Regions from separate parts of the Homo sapiens genome. Here all the other regions are linked to region 1. The links come from fine-mapping of genetic effects on gene expression. A gene starts in region 1. Each other region holds a variant in brackets. All regions are shown on one strand. Distances are between the middles of the regions.

Region 1 (7,087 bases):
GAATGAGCAAGCCCTAAAGGCAAGCGCAAGGGGGCCTCTGCCCCCCGCCCTCCTCAAAGTGGGGGAGGCCATTCTTGGGGGCGCGGGGCAGAGGCCAGGAGAAGGAAAAGAATCTGCTCCCCTTTCTAACTGGTCCTCTTCTGGGCTGCCTGCTAGGGGGTGGCCCAGACAGAGGAGGAAACGGGAGGGAAAGGCAGGGGTGGCAGGGCTGATCTAAAAGATAAAGGGGAAGCGGCCAGACCCCAGCTGAAATGGGCGGGAAGCGGAGGCCAAAAACAGAGCCTGGTTATGTCCGAGTGACACGTGGTGTGGGGGTGCCCCAGGGCTGGGAAGAGGGCCTGGTGGGAGTTACTCAGATCTCAGATCCTCCAGGGGCTCCTTACCCAAACTCTCCAACCCTGGCCCCAAATTATATCTAGAAGCCCCATCTTGGGGCCCTTGACCACGCAAAGATTCCCCCCGCAAAAGTTCCTCCTGGGGTCCCCTCCCCTCAGTGTCTTTCTCCCCTAGGCAGACCCTCCTATGTCTCCCCAAATCACTTTCTTCTCCCTCTATAAGACCCCACTTATGTACCCAGGCCCCCAGATTTAGAAACCCCTTCCCCAGGAGACTAGACTCACACTCCCGAGGGCTGGAGCCTCCCCTCAATATCCTGTCGAGTTTTCCTAAGACTCTAGAGGGAAGTCTCTGCTCCAGGGGCCCCAAAGCCCCGTCCTGTCCACGTGACCACTCCCGCCATCCGTAACACTCTTCCCCACCTCCCGGGGGAGCGGGAGCTGACCTCGCAAGATCCAGGAACGAATCGAGCACCTCCTTGCTGGGGGCATTTTCGGCACTGCCCGCGGCTCCCACGGAGGCGTTGATGGCGGCGGAGGCGGCGCCCGGCTGCAGAGCCAGCGCCAAGCCCACTCCGAGCGCCGACGCCAGCAGCGTGGTGACCAGGAAAAAGAGCAGCGCCCAGGCGCCCAGACGGCCGAGCGCGCCGGGGTCCAGGCTGGCGGCGCCGCCGATCAAGCTGCACACCACCAGCGGCAAGATGATCATCCGCAGCAGACGCAGCAGCAGCTCGCCCGGGAAGACGAAGGCGCTCAAGCGCTCCGGGCCCAACGCCAGCGCACCCCCGGCCCCCGACACCCCCAGTCCCAGCGCCACGCCGGCCACCACGGCCACCACTGTCAGCAGCACAAGCAGGTTGGCTCGAAGGCAGCGGCGCACCTGGTCCCGGGAACCGCAGTAGCCGCCTGCTGCCGCGCCTTGGTCCTCGATGGAGGCCAGCGCCAGGCCCCCGTTGGCGGTGGGCTCCGCCGCTGCGAGCCCCTTGGAGTCTCGAGGAGGATCGGCCACCATGATGGGAAGCACCGGGGTTTCTTAGCGCCTGGAAGCTGGCTGGGAGCGCTTGGGCTCCTTCCCAGGACCCGACGTTCCTAGGACTGAGTTGAGTAACAGCACCTGGAGACTGGAACTTTGGAGGGCTCCTTAGAGTTGTGAGTTCACAGCACTGAAGTTCCTTGGCTCTTGGAAGCTGGAGTGTTTAAATTCCCCAGGCTGGGCGCTGAGGCTTCTCTGCTCTGCCCCGTGTGCCAGATGTCCGAAAGCTGGGAGTTCGGAGCGCCCGGGTTCCTTGGCCCTAGGAGCTGGGAATACGAGAGTTTCTCTGGGTGGGACGTGGGGCCCTTGGCTCCAGGAGGTTGAGTGCCCCCAGATGGCGGAGGTCTGCAGGAGGCTAGGTTCTGGTGGCGCAGATCCCGGACGCCTGGATCCGGGAGGCGGGGACCCGGGCTGCCTGGGTCTTGGACACTGAGGGCTGGGATGCCAGAATCTGGGGGCCGGGAAGCGGACCTCCGGAAACAGGGGACCCAGGCTCTTAGGTCCGGGAGGGTGGGATGCGGGCCCCTGTGTACGGAAGGCGGTGGTCTGGTGTCCGGGAGTAGCGGTTACCAGCCAGAGAAAGCCTCCCGGGCGTGCCGCGTGGCTCTGAGCCCGTTTAGCGGAAGCTGCCAGGGATAAGGGTAGGGGGCGGGGCTTGAGAAGGCGGGGACCGACCCTCGGGCGCCGATTGGCTGCAGAGCGTTCGGAGACTGGACGAGTAGGGGCGGGGCTGATACCCGAGATGGGCCAGGTCCCCCATAGAAGGCAGATTAATAATACCCATCTCCAGGAGCCGGGCCCAGAGACGACGGGGCGGGGCCAGGAAGGGGCGGGGCCTTGGGAGGGTGCTGTTTCCCGCCAAAGGAACTGGGTTGTGGGTTGGAGCCCTTAAACCACAGGGGTTCGTTCCCTGGTGCGAGGGTCGCTAGAAAGCTCCGGTGGTCCTCGGTGATTCATTTGCAACTCAACTCAGCTTTGGAACTCCTCAGCCCTGAGTTTGGTCTTTAGTCGCCTCTGAGAACTTTAATTCCTCGAATATAAAGTGCAGGTGTTAAAAGCTTTTGTCTCATATGATTGCTGTAAGATTTAAATAAAATTGATGTATTTATTTAGGGAGCCGTGGCTCAAGCCTGTAATCCCACCACTTTGGGAGGTGAAGCGGGCGGATCACTTGAGGTCAGGAGGTCGAGACCAGCCTGGCCAACATGGTGAAACCCGTCTCTACTAAAAATACAAAAATTACCTGGTGTGGTGGCACGTGCCTGTAATCCCAGCTACTGGAAGCCTGAGGCAGGAGAATCGCTTGAACCCCAGAGGCAGAGGAAGTCATTCACCTTGAGGCCACACCTAGAGAGGATGACACGTGCATGCCCACCTCCCAAGCCCCTAACCGCACCCACTCTGCTGCCTCCCCAAATTCTCTGTTAGTGGCCGTTTGGGAGGTTAACAATGAATTATGATTCCTTACTCCACCTGACAGTGTTGAAATCCTCATTCCTTTCCCATCTCTAGCCTGTTCTGTGACATTTCAGGCTTTCATGCTTGCTCAAAGATTGTAGTGGTAATGTCAGAAGCTTCCTCCTACAGCAGCTGTGAGGCCTCAGGTAATTTACAACCTCTATGAGGCTCAGTCTTCATATGTGTAAATGGGAATAATAATAAGTCATACCGCCTTGAGTGTTGCAAGGGTTCAAATGAGATAATACGGCCGGGCGCAGTGGCTCACGCCTGTTATCCCACCACTTTGGGAGTTGATGCGGGCAGATCACTTGAGGTCAGGAGTTCCAGACGAGCCTGGCCAACATGGCAAAACCCTGTCTCTGCTGAAAATGCAAAAATTAGCTGGGTGTGGTGGCACATGCCTGTAATCCCAGCTACTCAGGAGGCTGAGGCAGAAGAATTGCTTGAATCCAGGAGGCAGAGGTTGCGAAGAGCCGAGATCTCACCACTGCACTCCAGCCTGGGTGACAGAGTGAGACTCCACCTCAAAAAAAAAAAAGTTATTTATTTGTGCTTTAAAATTTTTTGTTCTTTCTCTCTTCTTTTGTTTCTAACAAAAATGCCCTTCAGAAGAAAGTCAAATACTACTGCTGCGATTGCTGTTATTGTTATTATTACTGAAGAACAAGCTGGATTCAGTGGCATGCACCTGTAGTCCCAGGTATTTGGGAGGCTAAAGCAGGAGGATCCCTTGAGGCCAGGAGTTCAAGGCTGCAGTGAGCTATGATCGTGCCCACATTTAGCCACTAGACTCCATCCGGGGCAACATAGTGAGACCTTATCTTTAAAAACATGAAAATAGGCCAGGCATGGTGGCTCATGTCTGTAATCTCAGCACTTTGGGAGGCCAGAGTGGGCAGATCATGAGGTCAGGAGATCGAGACCATCCTGGCCAATATGGTGAAACTCTGTCTCTACTAAAAATACAAAAATTAGTTGGGCATGGTGGCATGCACTTGTAGTCCCAGCTACTCAGGAGGCTGAGGCAGGAGAATCGCTTGAACCCGGGAGGTGGAGGTTGCAGTGAGCCAAGATCACACCTCTGCACTCCAGCCTAGTGACAGAGTGAGACTCCGTCTCAAAATAAATAAATAAATATTTTAAAAAATTTTTCGGCCGGGCATGGTGGCTCACGCCTGTAATCCCAGCACTTTGGGAGGCCGAGGCGGGTGGATCACAAGGTCAGGAGATCGAGACCATCCTGGCTAACACGGTGAAACCCCGTCTCTACTAAAAATACAAAAAATCAGCCAGGCATGATGGCGGGCGCCTGTAGTCCCAGCTACTCGGGAGGCTGAGGCAGGAGAATGGTGTGAACCCGGGAGGCGGAGCTTGCAGTGAGCCGAGATCACGCCACTGCACTCCAGCCTGGGCGACAGAGCGAGACTCCGTCTCAAAAAAAAAAAAAAAAAAAATTTCACAGTGGCTTACACCCTTAATCCCAGCACTTTGGGAGGCCAAGGTGGGAGGCTCACTTGAGCCCAGGAATTTGAGACCAGCCTGGGCAACATGGCGAGACTCCGTCTCTACAAAAAAATTAAAAAATAAGCTGAGTGTGGTGGTATGCGCCAATAGTCCCAGCTACTTAGGAGGGTGAGGCGGGAGGATCGCTTGAGCCAGGAGGTCAAGGCTACAGTGAGCTGTAATCTCACCACTGCACTCCAGCTTAGGTGACAGAGCAAGACTCAGTCTAAAGGGAAAAAAGATTTAGGCTGGGAGCGGTGGCTCACGCCTGTAATCCCATCACTATGGGAGGCCAAGGCAGGTGGATCACTTGAGGTCAGGAGTTCAAGACCAGCCTGGCCAACATGGTGAAACCCCATCTCTACTAAAAATACAAAAACATGAAAATAGGCCAGGCACAGTGTCTCATGCCTGTAATCCCAGCACTTTGGGAGGCCTAAGTGGGCAGATCATGAGGTCAGGAGATGGAGACCATCCTGGCCAATATGGTGAAACCCTGTCTCTACTAAAAATACAAAAATTAGTTGGGCGTGGTGGCGGGCGGCTGTAGTCCCAGCTACTTGGGAGGCTGAGGCAGGAGAACTGCTTGAACCCAGGCGTCAGAGGTTGCAGTGAGCGGAGATCACACCACTGCACTCCAGCCTGGGCAACAGAGTGAGACTCTGTATCAAAAAAAAAAACAAAAAAACAAAAAATTCCTTGGCTGCTAGAGCTTGCATTCTAGTGCAGAGAGACAAGACAATAAACTTGGGCTTGGCCGGGTGCAGTGGCTTACACCTGTAATCCCAGCAGTTTGGGAGGCCGAGGCGGGCGGATCACTTGAGGTCAGGAGTTCAAAACCAGCCTGGCCGACATGGTGAAACCCCATCTCTACTAAAAATACTAAAAAATTAGCCGGGTGTGGTGGTCCACGCCTGTAATCCCAGATACTCGGGAGGCTGAGGCAGGAGAATCGCTTGAACCTGGGAGGCAGAAGTTGCAGTGAGCTGAGATCTCACCATTGCACTCCAGCCTGGGCAACAGAGCCAGACTCTGTATCACACACACACACACACACACACACACACACACAAAATCCTTGGCTGCTAGAGCGTGCATTCTAGTGCGGAAGAGACAAGACAATAAACTTGGGCTGTCAGCTGGAACTAAGCGTTGGGAGAAAGCAAAAGCATCCTATGAGTGACAGAGTGAACAGTTCAGCCACTGGAAGGAAGTGACATCTGCACTGAGATCTGAAAGATAAGAAGGAGCCCATGGCATAATGTGGAAACATTCAAAGGACGCGTGTGAAGCCCTGAGGCAACAGAGAGGTTTCCATCTCTGTTAGCAGTGCTCACAGACATGGTTTTATCCCCACTAATCCAGGAGACCAGCTCACACTCCCATTTTCCTGATTTGGAAGCAGATAAGGGTAATGAGGCTTGCTGTGGCCCAAACCCCAGGCATAAGCAAGAAATCTGAACTCAGATGTTTCTGATCCTTGTCTGCATCTCCTATCAGACACCCTGGCTACCCCTGCACTCGGCTGTCTCCAACTAGACATTTCCTTCAAGGGACAGTCATGTATTCTGAGCCCAGTGTTGGGTCCTGCGATGGGTGATACCAGGGACCCAGTGGCGAACAAGACAGTTCTGGCCCCGTTCTGCTGGGACTCAAAGTTCAGGGGGGGACACAGATAGTGATGATACAGAGTGGGCAGGGCTGGGATGGGGGAGCCCAGAAGGGATGCTTGACCAGGCTTGGGGGTCAGGGAGAGCTTCCTGGAGGAGGAGGCATCGGAGCTGGGATATGAAGGAGTTGGACCAATCCCAGGGAAAGAATATTCCAGACAAAGAGAATAGCACATGCAAAATCCCAGACTTCTGGCCAGGCATGGTGGCTCACGCCTGTAATCCCAGCACTTTGGGAGACTAATGCGGGTAGATTGCTGGAGACCAGGAATTCCAGACCAGCCTGGCCAACATGGCAAAACCCTGTCTCTTCTGAAAATAAAAAGTAAAAAAAATAGCCAGGACTAATGGCACACGCCTGTAATCCCAGCTATTCTGGAGGCTGAGGCAGGAGAATCACTTGAACCCAGAAGGCAGAGGTTACGGTGAGCCAAGATTGCACCACTGCACTCCAGCCTGGGCAATAAAGCAAGACTCTGTCTAAAAAAAAAAAAAAAAAAAAAATCCCAGACTTCAGAAGAGTCTGGAATATTTCAAAGCACAGATCTAACTGGGCCACCCCTACTCTCTGAACAGCCCCAGTGGCCTCCCTCAGGATGAAAACCACTCTTCAGCTAGGCATCTGTCCGCTTGGTGATTCATTTATTCATTCATTCAACAAACCACATCCACAGAATAGAAGACTGAGAGACATCAAATAGAAGGAGACGGATGCCCATGAGCTGACATGGGATCGTTGTGATGACTCATCTGGCCAATATTTATCAAACACTGAGAAAAACAGATGAGGAGCCGGGAGCAGTGGCTCACTCCTGGAATCCCAGCACTTTGGAAGGTTGAGGTGGGTGGATCTCTCAAGGCCAGGAATTCAAAACCAGCCTGGCCAACATGGTGAAACCTCATCTCAACTAAAAATACAAAAATTAGCGGGGCGTGGTGCTACCTACCCGTAATCCCAGCTACTCGAGTGGCTGAGACAGGAGAATCACTTGAACCTAAGAGGCAGAGGTTGCAGTGAACCAAGATTGCACCACTGCACTCCAGCCTGGGCGACAAAGCATGAAAAGAAAAAAAGGCAAAGAAAA
Region 2 (7,530 bases), 33 kb after region 1:
AAGGGATGCAGCCCAGCCAACACCTTGATATTAGCCCTGTAAAACCCATTTTGGGGGCCTGGGGCAATGGTTTATGCCTGTAATCCCAGCACTTTGGGAGGCCGAGGCAGGAAGATCGCTTGAGCCCAGGAGTTGGAGACCAGCCTGGGCAACATAGGAAGAGTCTCTACAAAAAATTTTTTAAAATTAGCCGGGCATGGTGGCACACACCTGTAGTCTCAGCTACTTGGGAGGCTGTGACAGGAGAACTGCTTGAGCCCAGGAGGCTGAGGCTGCAGTGAGCCATGATCAGGCCACTGCACTCCAGCCTGCATCATAGAGCCAGACCCTGTGGTAAAAAAAAAAAAAAAAAAAAACCTCCAGAACAGTAAGGTAGTAAATAAATCTGTCTCCTATGGAGCCACTAAGTGTATGGTCATTTGTTACAGGAGCAATAAGAAACCAATACCCTTGGCTGTGCACGGTAGCTCACCCTTGTAATCCCAGCACTTTGGGAGGCCGAGGCAGGCGGATCACCTGAGGTCAGGAGTTCAAGACCAGCCTGGCCAACATGGAGAAACCCCGTCTCTACTAAAATACAAAAAAAAATCAGCTGGGTGTAGTAGTGGTGGGCGTCTGTAATCCCAGCTATTCAGGAGGCGAGACTGAGGCAGGAGAATCACTTGAACCCGGGAGGCAGAGGTTGCAGTGGGCCGTGATCACGGCACTGCACTCCAGGCTGGGTGACAGAGCGAGACTTCGTCTCAAAAAAAAAAAAAAACAAAAAAAGCCAGTCACAGTCTGCATGGAACAGAGGAAGAGCGGGTGGAAGATGAGGTCAGACAGAGAACAGGGAGCTGGTGAGTCATGGTGAAGATGTTGTCTTTTAGTGAGTGTGGCAGGAGCCACAGAAGGGATTTGAGGAGGAGAATGACATCATGTCACTTCTGTCAAAGGATTCTGCTGCCATATGGGGACCTTTCTGTTGGGGACAAGGGCAGAAGCAGCGAGGAGGTGACTGCAATTTTCCAGGTGAGAAATGATCATGGCTAGACTAGCTCTGGGGGTTCAGACTTTGTTTTTGTTTTTGTTTTTGTTTTTGTTTTTGTTTTGAGGTGGAGTCTCGCTGTGTCTTGTCCAGGCTGGAGTGCAATGGTGCGATCACGGCTCACTGCAGCCTCCATCTCCCAGCTTCAAGCGATTCTCCTGTCTTAGCCTTCCGAGTAGCTGGGATTACAGGCGTGTGCCACCACACCTGGCTAATTTTGTATTTTTTAGTAGAGACGGGGTTTCACCATGTTGGCCAGGCTGATATCGAACTCCTGACCTCAGGTGATCCGCCTGCCTAGGCCTCCCAAAGTACTGGGATTACAGGCGTGAGCCACGGCGTCCAGCCTTTGGGGGGTCCGACTTCGGGTGCATTTTGAAGGTCAACAGGATTTCCCCTGGATGGGATGTGGGGTGTGAAAGCAGAGAGGAGTCATGAGCCCTTTCTAAGTTTCCAGACAGCATGCTTGAACACACGATGGTTTCTCTGGGGCTCAAGGACATTAGGCTACTCCTGGCCCTTAGCGTGTAGCTGTACACAGGAAGTGTCCTGCTGTGCTGTATTAATTAAAGTGGATGTTGTCAGCCGAGTTGGAGACATCCCGGGGGAGGAAAGGCCGGGCTGACCCTGGTTAACTTCAGGCAGGTGTCAGGCATGCAGCGAATGTCATCTTCCGCCTCTCATTCTCCCTCTGGGCTGGGCCTGCCTCTTCTTTCCCCAGCTAGCAAATAAATCATCTCTCCCATCTCCACCTGGAATTCATTCTCACTCATGTTTAATGAGGCTACCACACCCTTCTGCCAGGTGTGTCTTCACCCAGGTCGCTGATAACTACAAATAGGTTATATTTCAACTCTTTTGAGTATGCTGTGAGGTAGAGATCCAATTTCCTGCTGCGTGTGCAGAACAGAAGACAACTGTCTCAAACAAAAAGAAAAACCAAAACAATTATTTTAGGCCTGGCGCAGTGGCTCACACCTGTAATCCCAGCACTTTGGGAGGCTGAGGCAGGAGGCCGAGCTGGAGCTCAGTAGTTCGAGACCAGCCTGCGCAACATAGGGAGACCCCTGTCTCTGCTAAAAATTTTAAAAATCAGCCTAGCGTGGTGGTGCACGCCTGTAGTCCCAGCTACTAGTGAGACTGAGGCAGGAGTGATGGCAGTGGCTGCTGTCATTACACCGGCTGCAGCAGGGAGGTGCGGCTGGGGCTACACACTCCATGGAGCCGGTGGAAGCCCTGCCCCTTCTGAGCTGTGGTGGGAGTTCCCCAGATGCCACTGCAGCCGCCCAAACCGCCACTGTGGATTGAGCCTTCCTGTGCTCTTGCAGGGGCCAGAAGTAGGTAGGGTCTGCCCTCCCGGGTGCAGCTGCAGCTGCCCCCATGGCTGCCAACCTAGGCCTCCAGCTCCACAGAGTGAGCAAGAGCCGGGGACAAGTGGGAGCCCCACCCCTTCCGAGTTGGCAGGGCAGGAGCTCCCCGGATGCAGCTGTGGCCGCCCTCTGAGGCTGAGGACCTGGGCCTCTCTGCAGCCTGCACTCTCAGAGGCCGGGAAGGCCCCCCCAATCTCTGCAGACTGCTGGGTGTCTTCTCCTGCTGCCTGGCCTCTCTTCTCTCCCAGCGCCAGCTCTGATCTGGGATCGGGGTTGGGGTCCAGTCCTGGGGCCATGAATGGCAGCAGGAGGCAGACGGATTCCTGGGCAGAAGTTGGTGGGGGGTCCCTAGTAAGGCCCCACCTTCTTGCCAGGGAGGGCCTGAAGGCTGGGGGCCAGGCTGCCAACCCCACAGACAAGAGTGGGGACTTGTACCTCCTCTGGGCCCACGCATGGCAGCCCATGGACCAACCAGCACGTACTTCCTCCTCTCTGAGGTCCATAAAAGCCCCAGGCTCCACCAGAGCAGGGCAGAGGGCAGAGGACAGAGAGACAATGGGATTACCACCTGCACAGAGGAGCTACCCTCTCTACTGAGAGCTTCAGAGACCTGCAGAGACGCCTACATGACCTGCCTGCCGAGAGGAACCACCCTCTTCAGGGCCTCATCTCTGCTGAGAGCTGAACACTCGATGGGGTGACCTGCCTACTGAGAGGAGCTGCCCACTGACGGTCTCCTCTGAGCTGTTCTAAGACTAAATAAAGCTCCTATTCATCTTCTTCACCCTTCACTTGTCTGTGTACCTCATTCTTCCTGGACACAGGACAAGAACTTGGGCAAAGGCACTGCAGCCACAGAGGTTTCTGGCCAGAAAAGCAACACCCCAAAGATCCCGTAACAGGAGGATCACTTGAGCCCAGGAGGCGGAGGCTGCAGTGAGCTGAGATTGCACCACTGCACTCCA[G/C]CCTGAGTGACAGAGCAAGGCCCCAACTAAAAAACAAAAAACAAAAAAAGCCCAGATATTTTATAATAAAAAAAAAATTTTATGGCTGGCCACGGTGGCTCACGCTTGTAATCCCAGCACTTTGGGAGGCCAAAGTGGGCAGATCACTTGAGGTCAGGAGTTTGAGACCAGCCTCACCAACACGGTGAAACCCCATCTTTACTAAAAATACAAAAATTAGCCAGGCATAGTGGCACACGCCTGTAATCCCAGCTACTGGGGAGGCTGAGGCACGAGAATTACTTGAACCTGGGAGGCAGAGGTTGCAGTGAGCTGAGATCGTGCCACTGCACTCCAGCCTAGGCAACAGAGTGAGACTCTGTCTCAAAAAAATAAAATAAAATAAAATAAAAAATAAAGTGAATGGGAAGACACAGAGTCTAGCACTCTAGAAATCTGGGTTCCAGTCTCATCTGCTCATTGTGTGTCCTTGGGCAAATGATCTTCCTTATCTACAAAGAGGAGATAATACTCAGAATTGCAATGCTAATACCAAGAGCCACTTCACAGCGTCATTACAAGATTAAATGGGATTATGCCTTTAAAGCCTTGGAAGCTGCTGGGCCTAGAGCAGGAGCTCCCCCTAACAGTTCAGAAGCTTCCTTGAGGCTGGGCTCGGTGGCTTACACCTGTAATTCCAGCACTTTCGGAGGCAGAGGTGAGCAGATCACTTGAGCCCAAGAGGTTGAGACCAGCCGGGGCAACATGATGAAACCGCCATTTCTTTTTTTTTTTTTTTTTTTGAGACTGTGTCTCGTTCTGTTGCCCAGGCTGGAGTGCAGTGGCGCGATCTTGGCTCACTGCAAGCTCTGCCTCCTGGGTTCACACCATTCTCCTGCCTCAGCCTCCCAAGTAGCTGGGACTACAGGCGCCCGCCACCACGCCTGGCTAATTTTTTTTTTTTTTTTGTATTTTTAGTAGAGACGGGGTTTCACCTTGTTAGCCAGGATGGTCTCGATCTCCTGACCTCATGATCTGCCCACCTCGGCCTCCCAGTGTACTGGGATTACAGGCGTGAGCCACCGCGCCCGGCCTTGAAACCACCATTTCTACAAAAAACACAAAAAATTAGCCAGACTTGGTGGCATACACCTGTAATCCCAGCTACCCAGGAGACTGAGGTGGGAGAATCACCCAAGCCTGGGAATTCAAGGCTGAAATGAGCCATGATAGTGCCACTGCAGTCCAGCCTGGGCAACAGAGTGAGACCCTGTCTCAAAAAACAAATAAAACCGCCAGGCACGGTGGCTCACACCTGTAATCCCAGCACTTTGGGAGGCCGAGGTGGGCGGATCACGAGGTCAGGAGATGGAGACCATCCTGGCCAACATGGTGAAACCCCATCTCTACTAAAAATTCAAAGAATTAGCTGGGCATGGTGGCACGTGCCTGTAATCCCAGCTACTCAGGAGGCTGAGTTAGTAGAATTCCTTGAACCAGGGAGTCAGCGGTTGCAGTGAGCCAAGATGGCGTCACTGCACTCCAGCCTGGCGACAGAGAAAGACTCTGTCTCAAAAAAAAAAGAAAAAAGAAAGAAAAAGAAACACCGTCTCTAAAAATACAAAAATTGGCCAGGCATGGTGGTGGGCACCTGTAATCCCAGCTACTTGGGAGGCTGAGGCAGGAGAATTGCTTGAACCTGGGAGGTGGAGGTTGCATTGAGCCGAGATCGCGCCATTGCACTCCAGCCTGGGAGACAGAGTGAGAGTCTGTCTCAAAAAGAAACAAAAACAAAAACAAGAAGCTTCCTTGTTTGGTGGCTTTCTCAGGTTCCTCTTCGACTTTCTGTTCTCTAAACCCTGGAGCCCCTCAAAAGCCCAGAACTGACTCTGGCCTGTGCTTTAGTGCAGTTGCACCAGGGTTGCAAACACATGGCCTGAGGGCTCCATCCAGCCACCACATTTCGTTTGCCACCCCAGAGTATTTTTAAGTTTTTTGGTTTGTTTTTTTTTTGAGATGGAGTCTCGCTCTTGTCACGCAGGCTGGAGTGCAGTGGCACGATCTCAGCTCACTGCGGCCTCTGCTTCAGCCTCCCAAGTAGCTGAGATTACAGGCGTGCACCACCATGCCCGGCTAACTTTTTTATTTTTAGTAGAGATGGGGTTTCACCATGCTGGCCAGGCTGACCTCAGATGATCCGCCTGCCTCGGCCCCCCAAAGTGCTTGGATTACAGGCATGAGCTACCACGTCTGGCCCCCATGTCTTAAAAGAAAATAAAAGACAGGTGATCTCCACTCCACAGGCTCCACCACCCGCGTGGTCTTAAGGGCACCAACTTGAGTGGCTGTCACTCTCAGCTGACTGAGACTTACTCTTGCTTCCCATTTCACTGAGAAGAAGGAAGTCATTGGAGTAGGGACTTTTGGGAACTCCCCACACCAACACCACCACCACCTGCCTTGGCGCCCACGCACCCCTTCCTCCCAGATGCCTCTCGTGTGCTTGGATAATCCCAGCTGCGCCTTCCATCCCTCTCCCATCTCTTTCCTGCATCTTCCGGTTTCCCCTTGTCTGTTGCATCATCCCCATCAGCATAAAACTGATGATTTGAGCTGAGCGCGGTGGCTCACACTTGTAATCACAGCACTTTGGGAGGCTGAGGCGGGCGGATCACTTGAGGTCAGGAGTTTGAGACCAGCCTGACGAACATGGCGAAACCCAGTCTCCACTAAAAATACAAAAAATTAGCGGGGTATGGTGGCGGGCGCCTGTGGTCCCAGCTAGTTGGGAGGCTGAGGCAGGAGAATCGCTGGAGCCCAGGAGGCAAAGGTTGCGGTGAGCCGAGATCGCACAACTGCACTCCAGCCTGGGCATCTGTCTCAAAACAAAACAAAACAAAACAAAACAAAAACCTGCTGTGATATCATCCACTCCACCAAACACCCTCCAATCTCATTCCCCCCTCTAGCGACTATTTCTCTTCTCCCTTTATAGCAAAACTTCCTCTAAGGTTTTTTTTTTGTTTTTTTTTTTTTTATTCAACATTATCATCAGACACTTATATTTAGCCATCAACAGCATGGGTGCAAAACAAAAATCTACATTAAAACCCTTTGTTGGAATGCTTTGCACTTTCCACAGAAGAGAAACTGAAATAACCTGTTATACGATTAGTCACAAATACAGTCCTGGAGTTTTTTGTTTTTGTTTTTTGTCCATATACATGAGTATTGTCTCCAATACATCTTCCACTGGGTATGGTGGCTCATGCCTGCAATCCCAGCACTTTGGAAGGCTAAGGCGGGAGGATTGCTTAAGCCAGGGAGTTTGAGATCAGCCTAGGCAACATAGTGGAACTTCGTCTTTAAAAAATATTAAAAAATCAGGAGCCGAGGGTGGTGGCTCACGCCTGTAATCCCAGCACCTTGGGAGGCTGAGGTGGGTGGATGATTTGAAGTCAGGAGTTCAAGACCAGCCTGACCAACATAGTGAAACCCCATCTCGACTAAAAATATTTTAAAAATAGCCGGATGTGGTGGTTCACGCCTGTAATCCCAGGTACTCGGGAGGCTGAGGCAGGAGACTCCCATGAACTAAGGAGGCAGAGCTTGCAGTGAGCTCCAGCCTGGGCGATGGAGGGAGACTGTGTCTCAAAAAAAAAAAAAAAAAATAGGCAGGCATGGCGGCACGCACCTGTGGTCCCAGCTACTCGGGAAGCTGGGGTGAGAGGATTGCTTGAGCCCAGGGGTTGAGACTGCAGTGAGCTGTGATCATGCCACTGCACTCCAGCCTTGTCAACAGAGTGAGAGCCTGTCTCAAATCAAACACGGCCGGGCGCGGTGGCGCATGCCTGTAATCCCAGCACTTTGGGAGGCCGAGGCAGGCGGATCACAAGGTTGGGAGATCAAGACCATCCTGGCTAACACGGTGAAACCCCGTCTCTACTAAAAAATATTAAAAAAAATTAGCCGGGCGTGGTGGCTGGCACCTGTAAATCTCAGCTACTCAGGAGGCTGAGGCAGGAGAATGGCGTGAACCCGGGAGGTGGAGCTTGCAGTGAGCCGAGATCGCGCCACTGCACTCCAGCCTGGGCGACAGAGCGAGACTCCGTCTCAAAAAAAGCAAACAAACACAAAAAACACACCTTCTTCATAACAGACAGGCCCTGCCACCCCTGTGCCTGGCTGA
Region 3 (7,530 bases), 20 kb after region 1:
AGGTGTGAGCCACCACGCCTGGCCATTTTTTAAATTTCATTTTATTTATTTTTTTTGAGATGGAGTCTCACTCTGTTGCCCAGGCTGGAGTATAGTGGTAAGAGCTCAGCTCACTGCAGTCTCCACCTCCCGGGTTCATGCGATTCTTGAGCTCAGCCTCCTGAGTAGCTGGGATTACAGGTGCCTGCCACCACACCTGGCTAATTTTTATATTTTTAGTAGAGACAGGGTTTCACCATTTTGGCCAGGCTGGTCTTGAACTCCTGACCTCAGGTGATCCACCTGCCTCTGCCTCCCAAAGTGCTGGGATTACAGGTGTGAGCCACCGCACCCGGCCAACACCGGATCGTATCTTGAAGGGAGAAGGGCTTCATGCAGGATCAGTGGGGAACATCAAAGGGTCTAAGCAGCAGAGTGACACAATCAAGTTTGTGTTTAGAAGCTTCTGCACTCTCACACATTTGCTGGTGGGTGTGGAAGTTGGTACGGCCTCCCTGGAAAGCCATTAGGCAAAAGGCCTTAATTTTAGATCCTCCCACACCCTTTGACACAGCAGTTCTTCTCTGAGGGATTTATTCCACGGCTATTGTCTTGCATGCGAAAAATCACCACAGCCCTGCTTGCAGTAGCAAAAGACTAGAAGCAAACTAAGCACATACCAGGAAGGAACCAGCAAAATATGTTGTGGCCATTCATGCTATGGAACACTAGACAGCTGTAGAAAAGAATGAGCCACGTTTACAGGCATTGCACTGGCGTGCTGGTAAATACTTAACCAGGCCGGGCATGGTGTACTTCCAGCATTTTGGGGGGCCTAGGTGGGAGAAGGGCTTGAGCCCAGGAGTTTGAGACCAGCCTGGGCAACATAGCAAGAACCCTGTCTCTACAAAAAAATACAAAAATTTGTCTGGGTGTGGTGGCTTATGCCTGTAATCCCAACACTTTGGGAGGCCAAGGTGGGCAGATCACTTGAGGCCAGGAGTTCAAGACCAGCCTGGCCAATGTGGCAAAACGCTGTCTCTACTAAAAATACAAAACTTAGCCAGGTGTGGTGGTACGTGCCTGTATTCCGAGCTGTTTGGGAGGCTGCAGCATGAAAATCACTTGAACCTAAGAGGTGAAGGTTGCAATGAGCTGAGATCACACCATTGCATCCAACCTGGGCGACAGAGCTGGACTCTGTCTCAAAGAAAATACAAAAATTAGCTGGGTGTGGTGGCACGTGCCTATAGTCCCAGCTACTCAGGAGGCTGAAGAGGGAGGATCGCTTGAGCCCAGGAGGTCGAGGCTGCAGTAAACTCTGATTGCACCACTGCACTCCAGCCTGAGTAACAGAGCAAAATCATCCATATATATATATGTATGTATGTGTGTGTATATATATATACACACACACATATGTGTGTATGTGTATGTATATACACATATGTATATATGTGTGTATATATATATATACACATATGTGTGTGTGTGTATATATATATATACACATATGTGTGTGTGTGTATATATACATAATTTTTTTTTTTTGAGACGGAGTCTCGCTCTGTCGCCCAGGCTGGAGTGCAGTGGCATGATCTCAGCTCACTGCAAGCTCTGCCTCCCAGGTTCACCCCATTCTCCTGCCTCAGCCTCCCGAGTAGCTGGGCCTACAGGTGCCCGCCACCACGCCCAGCTAATTTTTTGTATTTTTAATAGAGATGGGGTTTCACCATGTTAGCCAGGATGGTCTCGATCTCCCGACCTCATGATCTGCCTGCCTCAGCCTCCCAAAGTGCTGGGATTACAGGCGTGAGCCACTGCGCCCAGCCAATATATATATATATATATTTTTTTTTTTTTTAATTTAACCACCAGCTCTCTAGGGAAGAAACAGCCCTAATTTATACCATTTGCCAATTTCTACAGTGTAAATATTCCCACTGTGGTTGATTTCTAGTTACTGATAGGATGTCATTGGATGTGGAATTCAGAAGAGACAAGCAACCACCCACTATCACTCAGGATTTCCACCAGGCAGAGATAAGTAGCCTGGAGAGCATAGATAATAGTAAAAATGTAGCAATTAGGATGCAATGCATTTGAACTATTTATTATATTTGTTTTTAACATAATTTATTTATCTGTAACTTTGTATCATTTAATTGTTAATAATACCTATGTTTAACAACTGGTTTGTGAAATTCCCAAAAGTGTAGCAATCTGCTCTTGAGAACTGGGCACAGCACACATTGAGACACAAATGGATCTTCAAGAAGAGAAAGCAAAAGCCAACTTTTGGAAAATGGCCTGGAAGGTTCTACACTGCTCACTCCCTTAATTTTAATTTTATTTATTTATTTATTTATTTATTTATTTATTTATTTATTTATTTTTTGAGACAGGGTCTCACTCTGTCACCCAGGCTGGAGTGCAGTGGCGCAATCGCAGCTCACTGCAGCCCCCTGGGCTCAAGCGATCCTCCCATCTCAGCCATCTGAACTACAGGCACGCACCACCGCACCCAGCTAATTTTAAATTTTTTTTTTTTTTTTGGAGATGGAATCTCACTATGTTGCCCAGGCTGGTCTCAAACTCCTAGGCTCAAGTGATCCTCCCACCTCGGCCTCGCAAAGTGCTGAGATTACAGATGTGAGCCACTCGCCCAGCCGTCATTGTATTTCTGTACAGCACTGTCTTTCTCCCCCACTAGAATGTCACCTCCACAAGGGTAAGAACTTGATCTATTTTGGATTGTTTTTTGTTTTTGTTTTTGTTTTTGCCATATGCCCAGTGCCTAGAAAAGCACCTGGCATATAATAGGTACTTAGTAAACCTGTGTTGAATAAATAAATTTACTATTTATTTATTTATTTATTTTGAGACGGAGTCTCGCTCTGTCGCCCATGCTGGAGTGCAGTGGTGCAATCTTGGGCCACTACAACCTCCGTCTCCCGGGTTCAAGTGATTCTCCTGCCTCAGCCTCCCGAGTAGCTGGAACTACAGGTGTGTGCCACCACACCTGGCTAATTTTTTGTATTTTTAGTAGAGACGAGGTTTCACCATGTTAACCAGGATGTTCTCAATCTCCTGACCTTGTGATCCACCCATCTCAGCCTCCTGAAGGGCTGGGATTACAGGCTTGAGCCACCGCGCCCGGCCAATTTACGCTTAAGGAAAAAAAAAAGGTGCACCAGCCTGGACAATATAGTGAGATCCTGTCTGTACAAAAATTTTTAATAAATTATCCAGGTGTCATGGGCTTCAGCCTCAAGCGCATGGCCGCTCCCATTGACCATGTGGGCCAGACCATAGAGCACATGGGCTCTGGCGTGGAGCACATTGGCCCTGCCATCGAACACGTGGGCCTGAACATGGAGCACATGGTGCTTGCAGGCATGGAGGCTGGCTTGGAGCACATGGGCCCCATGATGGATCACATGGTCACTGGCCTAGAGCACATGGGTGCCAAGAGCCTCACGTGCATGGGCCTGGCCATGTGTGGCAGTGGCGGTGCCACCTTTGACCATGCCATCGGTATGGAGTGTGGCAACTTTGGAAGCTTTGCAGGTTCCCTTGGTGGAGCAGGAGACCATGCTCCTGGGCATGGCCAGGAAGGCATGCCAAATATTTGTAAGAAATCTCCCATTCAATTTTACATGGAAGATGCTAAAGGACAAATTCAACGAGTATGGCCACATGCTGTACACTGACATCGAAATGGAGAACGGGAAGTCCAAGGGGTGC[A/G]GTGTGGTTAAGTTTACGTCCCCAGAGGTGGCTGAGAGAGTCTGCCGGATAATGAACAACATGCAGCTGAATGGCCAAGACTGATGTTCAAATAAATAGAAATGCTTAAGCAGTTGCCTTTTTTAAACATCAATACCAGACCTCTGAATTTGTATTTTTTCTTGTTAACTTTTTTTTTTTTTTTTTGAGACAGGGTTTCGCTCTTGTCTCCCAGGCTGGAGTGCAGTGGCGCGATCTCGGCTCACCACAACCTCTGCCTCCCGGCTTCAAGAGATACTCCTGCCTCAGCCTCCTGAGTAGCTGGGATTACAGGTATGTAATACCATGCCGGCTAATTTTGTATTTTTAGTAGAGACAGGGTTTCTCCATGTTGGTCAGGCTGGTCTCGAACTCCTGACCTCAGGTGATCCGCCCACCCTTGGCCTCCCAAAATGCTGGGATTACAGGCATGAGCCACTGTGCCCGGCCCTCTTGTTAACCTTTTTATTTTTCTTTTCCTTTTTTTTTTTTTTGAGACACAGTCTCACTCTGTCGCCCAGGCTGGAGTATAGTGGTGCAATCTCAGCTCACCGCAACCTCTGCCTCCTGGGTTCAAGCGATTCTCGTGCCTCAGCCTCCCAAGTAGCTGCGACCACAGGCATGTGCCACCACGCCTGGCTAAGTTTTGTATTTTTAGTAGAGATGGGGTTTCACCATGTTGGCCAGGCTGGTCTCGAACTCCTGACCTCAAGTGATCCACCCGCCTTGGCCTCCCAAGTGCTGGGATTACAGGCATGAGCCACCACACTGGCTTTTTTTTTTTTTTTTTTTTTGAGACAGAGTCTCGCTCTGTCGCCCAGGCTCAGTGCAGTGGCGCGATCTCGGCTCACTGCAAGCTCCGCCTCCCGGGTTCACGCCCTTCTCCTGCCTCAGCCTTCCGAGTAGCTGGGACTACAGGCACGCGCCACCGCGCCCGGCTAATTTATTTATTTATTTTTATTTTTGTATTTTTAGTAGAGACAGGGGTTTCACCATGTTAGCCAGGATGGTCTCGATCTCCTGACCTTGTGATCCGCCTGCCTCAGCCTCCCAAAGTGCTGGGATTACAGGCATGAGCCACAGCGCCTGGCAGCTTTTTTTTTTTTTTTTTAATTTAGCATTTTAATTTTTTTTTTTTTTTTTTTTGAGACAGAGTCTCGCTCTGTTGCCAGGCTGGAGTGCAGTGGTGCAATCTCGGCTCACTGCAACCTCCAACTCCCTGGTTTAAGCGATCTTCCTGCCTCAGCCTCCTGAGTAGCTGGGATTACAGACACGTGCCACCACATCCAGCTAATTTTTTTTTCTTTTTTTTTGTATTTTTAGCGGAGACGGGGTTTCACCATGTTGGCCAGGATGGTTTCGAACTCTTGACTTCGTGATCCACCTGCCTCAGCCTCCCAAAGTGCTGGGATTACAGGTGTGAGCTACCGCGCCTGGCCAATCATTTTATTATTTATTTATTTATTTATTTACTTTTGAGAGAGTCTCGCTCTGTTGCCTACGCTGTAGTGCAGTGGCACAGTCTCAACTCACTGCAAACTCTCTCTCTCAGGTTCAAGCAATTCTCCTGACTCAGCCTCCCAAATAGCTATACTACAGGCACTCACCACCACACGGGGCTAATTTTTTTTGTATTTTTAGTTTCACCATGTTGGTCAGGCTGGTCTCACCTGACCTCAGGTGATCCACACACCTTGGCCTCTCAAAGTGCTAGGATTATAGGCATGAACCACCACGCCAGACCACTTGTTAACCATTTTAATTTGTTGGCTGGATGTATAAAGATGTTAAAAAAGCTTGAACCCAGGGAGGCAGAGGTTTCAGTGAGCCAGAGATCGTGCCATTGAGCTCTAGCTGGGCGACAAGAGCAAAACTCTATCTCAAAAAGAAAAAAAAAAAAGAAAAAGATGGTAAAAAAAAAAAAAAAAAAAACCAGTTGCTTTTTGGGCTAATTTAATTACTTTTTTAAATGACTGGTGTTCCATTTGACTGTTTGCCTTGAGATTGCACTGTGCGCAATTTTTTTTGTAGTTATGGTGTCTTCTTGACATTGAATATGATTTTGATAATAAATACTGGTTCTTGAAAAAAAAATTAGCCAGGTGTGCTGGTGCACGCCTATAGTCCTAGCTACTTAGGAGGCTGAGGTGGGAGGATGGCTTGAGCCCAGGAGTTGGAGGATGCAGGTGAGCCCTAATTGTGCCACTACACTGCAGCCTGGGTGACAGACAGAGAGACAGAGAGACCCTGTCTCAAAAATAAATAAATGAGGCCAGGCAAGGTGGCTCAGGCCTGTAATCCCAGCACTTTAGGAGGCCGAGGTGGGCAAATCACGAGATCAAGAAATCGAGACCATTCTGGCCAACATGATGAAACCCTGTCTCCACTAAAAATACAAAAATTAGCTGGATGTGGTAGTGCGCGCCTGTAGTCCCAGCTACTCGGGAGGCTGAGGCAGGAGAATTGCTTGAACCCGGGAGGCGGAGGTTGCAGTGAGCTGAGATCGCACCACTGCACTCCAGCATGGGTGACAGAGCAAGATTCAGTCTCAAACAAAAACAAAAACAGAAAACAAAATTAGCTGGGCCTGGTGGCACATGCCTGTAGTCCCAGCTACTTGGGAGGCTGAGGCAGGAGAATCGCTTGAACCTGGGAGGTGGAGGTTGCAGTGAGCTGAGATCGTGCCGTTGCACTCCAGCCTGACTGACAAGAGCAAAACTTTATCTCAAATAAATAAATAAATTAAATAAATGAAAGTTGCAGACACATGTGAATGACCTGGGCAGCATTTCTCCACCTGCGCTTGCATTTGCTAGACAGTCTGTGACTCTCTGTGGGAGAAAACACAAGAAACCGGCCCCTCTGCTGGTTCCCCACCTGGCCTGGCTCTCCTGTTCTCCACCCTGCACACTCATGCCTCGGAACCTGCTTCTCCTCTGAGCCTCCCTCACAGTGGCCCGGCCCACGTGGCCTTTAATCTGCCCACATCAGAGCCTCCACCTCCGGCCTATGGCCCATCAGAGGCAGCTGGAGCCGGGCATCCTCCCCACGTGGGCCTTTGAGGATGGGATGAAGGAAGCTGAGCGGAGGTCGCAGTGCCTCCCAGGAGGGGCCTGGAGGGGAGGGAACAGGGGAGAGGAGAAGGTTTTTCCACTGTGTCCCCTCCTGTGACTGTAGAAATGAGCCATGTGACTTCAATTACCTATTAACATTTTTTGAAGTGTTCTATAAAAAGTGCCAGCCTCGGGCTACCGTGGGGAGCAGGGAAGGAGGAGGGTGAGTCCAGGCGTGAGGAGGCCGGAGCGGTGACCCGGGAGTGGGGACGGCCGGGGCTGCCAGGCAGTCACAGCCTGTCCCAGAAGGCCCCGTGGTGGAATGCTGTGCAGAAAGTCCTTAGAAGGCTCTGGCGGGGGCGGCCTGTCCCTCAGCACCCTCCTCTCTAAGCCAACTTCAGGGTTTCCCGGAAAGGCATCTCCTCCACCACCTCTGCCCCTACCCAAAATGATCCCCAAATGTCTGGTGGATAAAAACTCTCGATCTTTCCTTCGCACTAGGTCTGTAAGGGTGGGAGCTGACTCACATCTGGCCCTCCACCTCCACCCTTCTCCTCTCTCCTCCCCGCCTCCTTCTCTCTCACCTCTGTCCTCTCCCTTCCTCTCCCTCCTCTCCCTCTTTCCCTCCTATCCCTCCTCCTCCCTCCAACCCCTCCTCCTCCCACTGCCTCTCCCACCCTCCCTCCTTTCAGCGAGACACAACCTCCTCCAGGGCCCCCAAAACACCAACCCT
Region 4 (7,530 bases), 25 kb before region 1:
TCAGTGCTTTCTCAACTACTCTTGTACTATTATTATCCAGTCAGAAGTATTTCAGTATTTTAACAACCAGTATTGGCCAAGTATGGTGACTCACGCCTGTAATCCTAGCACTTTGGGAGGCCGAGGTGGGTGGATCACAAGGTCAGGAGTTCAAGACCAGCCTGGCCAATATGGTGAAACCCTGTCTCTACTAAAAATACAAAAACTAGCCGGGCATGGTGGTGGGCGCCTGTAGTCCCAGCTACTCAGGAGGCTGAGGCAGGAGAATCGCTTGAACCCAGGAGGCGGAGGTTGCAGTGAGCCAAGATCATGCCACTGCACTCCAGCCTGGGTGACAGAGCGAGACTCTGTCTCAAAAACAAACAAGAAAGAACAGTATTTCCATACTAGTTCAGACCAACTAAATTTTAGCCTTACTTGGAGGTGAAAACCCTGGCCAAAAATCTCTCTCTTGTACGTACAAAGTCCTTTTTGTTTTTAAATAGCCTCGGAATCTTCCAGGAAGTGCAACTACCACAAAAAATGAGGGAAGCTTGTATCGTGTTTTGTTCAAAACTTGGCCAAAGGTTGTCCACCATGTGAAAAAACTCACATTGCACATGGCTCTTGGTAATTGGACACCAGTCCACGTGTTTTCAATGTGTTGGAACTGTCTATATTACAGGCATAAACATCTGCCTACCTCCTTGGGTTCTAGGGGACTGGCTCCACACATCCGCATAATGAAATGCTTATTGTAAGTTACTATGTTCTTATTTCTCCTTTTTATTACATTTAGGGCAATCAAGGATCGTTTTTGTTGCTGCTGCTGTTGTTGTTGTTTCTGAGACAGGGTCTCACTCTGTCACCCAGGCTGCAGTGCAGTGGCACAGTCTTGGCTCACTGCAGCCTCAACTTCCCAGGCTCAGGCGATTCTCCCACCTCAGCCTCCCGAGTAGCTGGGACTACAGATAAGTACTACCACACCCAGCTTTTATATATATATATATATAAATATATTTATATATATAATGTCTCTACTAAAAATACAAAAATTAGCTAGGTGCGGTGTCGCACGCCTGTAATGCCAGCAGTTTGGGAGGCCAAGGCGGATGGATTACTTGAGGTCAGGAGTTCGAGACCAGCCTGGCCAACATGGTGAAACCCCATCTCTACTAAAAATACGTGTGTGTGTGTGTGTGTGTGTGTGTGTGTGTGTATTTTAAGTAGAGATGGGGTTTCACCATGTTGCTCAGGCTGGTCTCAAATTCCTGGACTCGAGTGATCTGCCCACCTTGGCCTCCCAAAGTAGGATTTTCTTAAATCATGTTAAATCATGTGCCAGTGGGTTATACTGTCTATGAACTTCATTTCAGGAGAACAGAGAGAACTTTCCCAGAACTGACATTCAAGCCAGCACACGCCCTGGTATGGCCACGCCAGTGGTTAAGACAGCAAAACACTAAATTATGGATTATTTACTCATTCATAAACGGTCACTGCCATGAACCCCCTGACTATTAGTATCCTCCTAGCTCTCCCTGGGGATCCCCTGGGCTGCCCTCTGGCCCAGAAGTCCAGGGGTTAAACTGGGTATAGTGGGAGATAAGAGGGACCCATATCCCGGATGTTGGATGGACTGATGACTTTGCCAAGCAGTAAATATTTTGTCTATCAGCCCTACATGTTACAAAATATTTGCTATGAACAATAGTGGCATGTAAAGACCTGTCTACATTAGCCAGGTGTGGTGGCTAATGCCTGTAATCCCAACGCTTTGGAAGACCAAGGCTGGAGGATCACATGAGCCCAGGAGGTGGAGGCCACCCAGGGTAATATGTTGAGACCCTGTCTCTACCAAAAAAATTTAGGAGGGGCGAGTGGCTCATGCCTGTAATCCCAGCACTTTGGGAGGCTGAGGCGGGCAGATCACTTGAGGTCAGGAGTTTGAGACCAGCCCAGTCAACATGGTGAAACCACGTCTCTACTAAAAATACAAAAATTAGCCAGGTGTGGCGGCTCACACCTGTAATCCCAGCACTTTGGGAGGCCGAAGAGGGCGGATTACTTGAGGTCAGGAGTTCAAGACCAGCCTGAACAACATGGTGAAACCCCATCCCTACTAAAAATACAAAAATTAGCCGGGCGTGATGGTGGGTGCCTGTAATCCCAGCTACTCAGGAAGCTGAGGCAGGAGAATTGCTTGAACCTGGGAGGTGGAGGTTGCAGTGAGCCGAGATTGCACCACTGCACTCCAGCCTGGGCAACAGAGCAAGATTCTGTCTCAAAAATAAAATAAGGTAAATAAAAAATAAAAAACCTGTCTACAAATGCACCTTTATGCACAATAGCCCCAACCTGGAAACCATCAGATGTAAATCAACAGGTGGGTGGATAAGCAAACTGTGGTACACTCAGACAACATAATACTCCTTAGCAAGTTTTTTAAAAAAGGAAAGAACTGGGCCGGACGTGGTGGCTCACGCCTGTAATCCCAGCACTTTGGGAGGTCGAGGCGGGCCGATCACCTGAGGTCGGGAGTTCAAGACCAGCCTGACCAACATGGCAAAACCCTGTCTCTACTAAAAATACAAAATTAGCTGGGCATGGTGGCACATGCCTGTAATCCCAGCCACTTGGGAGGCCAAGGCAGGAGAATCACTTGAACTCGGGAGGCGGAGGTTGTAGTGAGCCGAGATTGTGCCATTGCACTCCAGTCTGGGCAACAAGAGTGAAACTCCATCTCAAAAAAAAAAAAAGAAAAGAAAAGAAAGAACAAACTACTGATACATGCAAAAATAAGAATAAATCCCAAAAGCATTATGACACATAAAAAAAAGCCAGATGCAAGACGCTACATAGTATATGATTCCACCAATGTAAAATTCTAGAAGAGGTAAAACTAATTCATAGTGACCAAAAGCAGATCAGTGGTTACCGGGGCCTGGAGCTGGAGAGAGGGGCAGACTGCAAAGAAGCATGAGGAAATTTGGGGATGATGAGAATATCATGTATCTTGATTATGGGAGTGGTTTTTCACAGTATATTCATCTGTCAAAACTCATTTAACTGTATTTTATTTATTTATTTATTTATTTTGAGACAGGGTCTCGCAGCATTGCTCAGGCTGGTCTCAAACTCCTGGGCTCAAGCGATCCTTCTGCCTCGGCCTCTCAAAGTGCTGGAATTACAGGCATGAGCCTGGCCTAATTGATTTTAACGGGTGCAATTTATCATATGAAACAATTTTTTTGGAGCCAGCCTTGCTCTGTTGCCCAGGCTAGAGTGCAGTGGTGCAGTCTTGGCTCACTGCAACCTCTACCTTCTGGATTCAAGTGATTCTCATGCCTCAGCCACCTGAGTAGCTGGGATTACAGGTGTGCACAACCACACCTGGTTAATTTTTGTATTTTTAGTGGAGATGGAGTTTCACCATGTTGGCCAGGCTGGTCTTGAACTCCTGGCCTCAAATGATTTGCCTTGACCTCCCAAAGTGCTAGGATTACAGGTGTGAGCCACCTTGCCCGGCCTATTGTATGTAAATTATACCTCAATAAAGTTGACCTCAAAAAGAGCAGATGGGGGCAGAATCCAACAGGCCTAAGAACATTGACCTGTCTCTAAGAGAGACAAAACTGAGTCACTGCCCTCTGCCTTTCTGTCCCCATACTGCCACTCTGAGCCTAGAACCCAGGACCAACCCTAATCCGGGGCCAGCCTGGGCCCTCCTTCCTGGGCCAAGCTCCTTCAAAGAGGCAAGAGGGGTGGGTGGGGCAATGGAGAAAGGGAGAGAAAGGTGGGAGCTGGGAACTGGGACCCAGGGAGTGACCGTCAAAGTGCCTTTTCTTCTGCTCTTACGTAACCTGCACTAGCAGCCTTTGGGTGAGGCATAAGAGAGCCATTGTCACCGGCGG[G/A]TGAGACCTGGCAGTGCTCATCCAAGGTCACATAGTTGCCAGGCAGCAGAGTCGAGACTGAACCAGCCTCTTCCACCATTCCACGAGTGTTTATTGAGCTCCTGCTATACGCATGCACCGGACCCTATGCTAGACTCTGAGCCTACAGCAGTGAACAATTCAAAGATGGTTCCCCCACAGAGTGACCTTCCCAGTGGGGACAGGCAGGAAACAATAAACATCATAAACCAGTGAATTCTATCGTCTGTTGGGAGGGGACTGTTGCTATTAAAAAAGGAGAACAGGGCAGGGCACGGTGGTTCACAACTATAATCCCAGCACTTTGGGAGGCGTAGGTGGGAGGATCCTTTCAGCCCAGGAGTTCAAAACCAGCCTGGACAACATACAGAGACTGTGTCGCTACAAAAAACAAAAATTAAGAAAAAAAAATAGCTGGGCAGGGTAGCATGGGCCTATAGTCCCAGCTACTTAGGAGGCTGAGGTGGGAGTGTCACTTGAGCCTGGGAGGTCAAAGCTGAAATGAGCTGTGATCATGAAACTGCATTCCAGCCTGGGCAACAGAGCAAGACCCTGTCTTTAAAAAAAAAAAAAAAAAGTAGAGCAGGCCTGGCGTGGTGGCTTATGCCTGTAATCCCAGTACTTTGGGAGGCCGAGGTGGGAGGATTGCTTGAGCTCAGGAGTATGAGCCTGGCCAGCCTGGGCCATAGAGCAAGACCCCATCTCTGTTTGTTTGTTTGTTTGTTTGTTTGTTTGTGACAGGGTCTATCTCTGTCTCCCAGGCTGGAGTGCAGTGGCGCGATCTTGGCTCACTGCAACCTCTGCCTCCCGGGTTCAACAATTCTCATGCCTCAGCCTCCCGAGTAGCTGGGATAACAGGCGCCCGCCACTACACCCAGCTAATCTTTGTATTTTTAGTAGAGACAGGTTTTTGCCACATCTCTCGAACTCCTGACAGCGAGTGATCCACCTGTCTCGGTCTCCTAAAGAGCTGGGATTACAGGCGTGTACCACGACACCTGGCTAATTTTTGTATTTGTAGTAGAGACAGGGTTTCGCCATGTTGGCCAGGCCGGTCTTGAACTCCTGGCATCAAGTGATCTGCCTGCCTCAGCCTCCCTAAGTGCACAGATTACAGGCATGAGCCACTGCGTCTGCCCAAGACCCCATCTCTTAATAAAAAAAAAAAAAAAAAAAAAAAAAAAGAGGAAAAGGGCTGGGCGTGGTGGCTCACGCCTGTAATCCCAGAACTTTGGGAGGCCTGAGGTGGGCAGATCACGAGGTCAGGAGATCGAGACTATCCTGGCTAACATGGTGAAACCCCCGTCTCTACTAAAAATACAAAAAAAAAAAAAAAAAAAGCCGGGTGTGGTGGCGGGCGCCTGTAGTCCCAGCTACTCGGGAGGCTGAGGCAGGAGAATGGCGTGAACCCGGGAGGCGGAGCTTGCAATGAGCCGAGATCGTGCCACTGCACTCCAGCCTGGGCGACAGAGCGAGACTCCGTCTCAGAAAAAAAAAAAAAAAGAGAAAAGGGTAGAATAGGGTATGGGTTGGGTGGGTGAGGGTGGGGGCAGGAAGCAGGGGTGGTAGAATTAAATAAAGCGGTCAGAGAAGGCTCACTGAGGTGACATTGCAGCCAAGTCGAGAGGGAGGTGTGGGAAGAGCCAAATGGAAATCTGGGGGGCAGAGCAGCCAAGAGAGGAACAGCCTGTGCAAAGGCCCTGAGGCACCAGCAGGCCTGGCATGTTCAAGGAATGGCAGAGGCTGGAGTAAGAGAGGGAGGAGGAGAGTGGGAAGAGGTGAGGTCGGTGAAGTAAGGCGCATCCTACAGAGGCTATGGGGAGCACCTTGGATTTTTCTCTGGGTTCTGAGCTGCGGAGGGCCACGAGCTGCCATGATGGAAACAGGCGCCCTCTGGAGGCCATATGGGGAACAGACGGAAGAGGTTGGGGCTCAGGAGTCCCGGCGTGAAGGCAATTGCAATAGTTCAGGTGGGAGATGATGGCAGCTGGCCAGGGTGGTACCCAGTGTGGAAGGTGTAGAGGGGCCAGATTTGGGGTTTGAGGGCAGAGAAACTGAGATTTCTGGTAGCTTGAATGTGGGATATGACGGGCAGAAGGAGGGCGTAGCAGGGGAAGGAAATAAAGTGGCTTGTTCTGTATGTGACTGGAGCCCAGCTCCTTGCACCAACCCGGGCTCCTGCACCCCTCAGCAGGCCCAGGGATCCCCACCGCCAGGCCGGAGCCAACCCCATGGAACCCAAAGTGCTCAAGCTCCCCAGTGAATGAGGCTCTTAATGTATCACCGCCCGTCAGGCCTGGCCTGGCATCCGGGTTTCTCCACCTGCGGGGTGCAGGGGCCACATTGGTGGGTTCCAGATTCCAAGTTCCAGTATTTGGAGGAGGTGGCAGAGGAGGGCCCCCACCCCACCGTTTTCATCTTTCACCCAAGATTTGCACAGGTTTCATTTTAATGACAGTCCACTGTCTGTTTGTTAGTTAGCTTTGAGATAGAGTCTCACTCTGTTGCCCAGGCTGGAGTGCGGTGGCAAGATCTCAGCTCACTGCAACCTCCGCCTCCTGGGCTCAAGCGATTCTCCCACCTCAGGCTCCTGAGTAGCTGAAACTACAAATGTCCAGATAATTTTTTACATTTTTAGTAGAGACGGGGTTCCACTATGTTGGCCAAGCTGGTCTCAAACTACTAACCTGAGATGATCCACCTGCTTCGGCCTCCCAAAGTGCTGGGATTACAGGCATGAGCCACTGCGCCCAGCCACCCAGCCACTGGTTTTAAAAAATGTTTGACACTGGGCACAGTGGCTCATGCCTGTAATCCCAGCACCTTGGGAGGCTGAGGTGGGTGGATCACCTGAGGTCAGGAGTTGGAGACCATCCTGGCCAACATGGTGAAACCCCATCTCTACTAAAAAAAAAAATACAAAAATTAGCCGGGCGTGGTGGCAGGCACCTGTAATCCCAGCTATTCGGGAGGCTGAGGCAGGAGAATCGCTTGAACCCGGGAAGTGGAGGTTGCAGTGAGCTGAGATCACATCATTGCACTCCAGCCTGGGGGACAAGAGCGAGACTTCATCTCAAAAAAAAAAAAAAAAAAAAAGCAGTGGCTGGGTGCAGTGGTGCATGCCTGTAATCCCAACACTTTGGCCTGGGAGTTCCAGACCAGCCTGGGCAACATAGTGAGATCCCTTGTTTACAAAACAAAACAAAACAAAAACAAAAACCTTTTCTAATTAAAAATAGCTGGGCATGGCCAGGCACAGTGGTGGCTCACTCCTGTAATCCCAGCACTTTGGGAGGCTGAGGCAAATCACCTGCGGTCGGGATTTCGGGACCAGCCTGGCCAACATGACAAAACCCCGTCTCTACAAAAAATACAAAAATTAGCCAGGCCTGGTGGCAGGTGCCTGTGTGGGGAAAAGAAAAAGAGAGATCAGACTGTTACTGTGTCTATGTAGAAAAGCAAGATATAAGAAACTCCATTTTGATCTGTACTAAGAAAAAATTGTTTCTGCTTTGAGATGCTGTTAACCTGTAACTTTAGCCACAACCCTGTGCTCACAGAAACATGTGCTGTAAGGAATCAAAGTTTAATGGATTTAGGGCTGTGCAGGATGTGCCTT

What was found.
Region 2: its variant is fine-mapped to the expression of SLC1A5 in whole blood (TOPMed, PIP above 0.99). The same link has a PIP of 0.9 or more in blood mononuclear cells.
Region 3: its variant is fine-mapped to the expression of SLC1A5 in whole blood (INTERVAL, PIP above 0.99).
Region 4: its variant is fine-mapped to the expression of SLC1A5 in esophagus mucosa (GTEx, PIP above 0.99). The same link has a PIP of 0.9 or more in transverse colon.

The regions. Positions count from the first base shown.
Region 1 is chr19:46,786,619-46,793,705 of GRCh38, forward strand. SLC1A5 (solute carrier family 1 member 5) reads right to left here and starts at 1,976. Exons shown (of 8, transcript NM_005628.3): 1 at 782-1,976. The coding sequence starts at 1,347. RefSeq lists silencers at 1,054-1,103, 1,114-1,163, 2,134-2,293 and enhancers at 1,644-2,245, 1,894-2,188.
Region 2 is chr19:46,819,281-46,826,810 of GRCh38, forward strand. No RefSeq gene overlaps it. Among named protein-coding and RNA genes, the nearest start is that of SNAR-E, 7.7 kb to the right of the region's middle. RefSeq lists enhancers at 2,290-2,409, 2,580-2,639. The variant G/C (reference allele first, on the strand shown) is at 3,363.
Region 3 is chr19:46,806,348-46,813,877 of GRCh38, forward strand. It overlaps the pseudogene HNRNPMP2. Among named protein-coding and RNA genes, the nearest start is that of SNAR-E, 21 kb to the right of the region's middle. The variant A/G (reference allele first, on the strand shown) is at 3,727.
Region 4 is chr19:46,761,055-46,768,584 of GRCh38, forward strand. No RefSeq gene overlaps it. Among named protein-coding and RNA genes, the nearest start is that of STRN4, 18 kb to the left of the region's middle. RefSeq lists a silencer at 398-692. The variant G/A (reference allele first, on the strand shown) is at 3,894.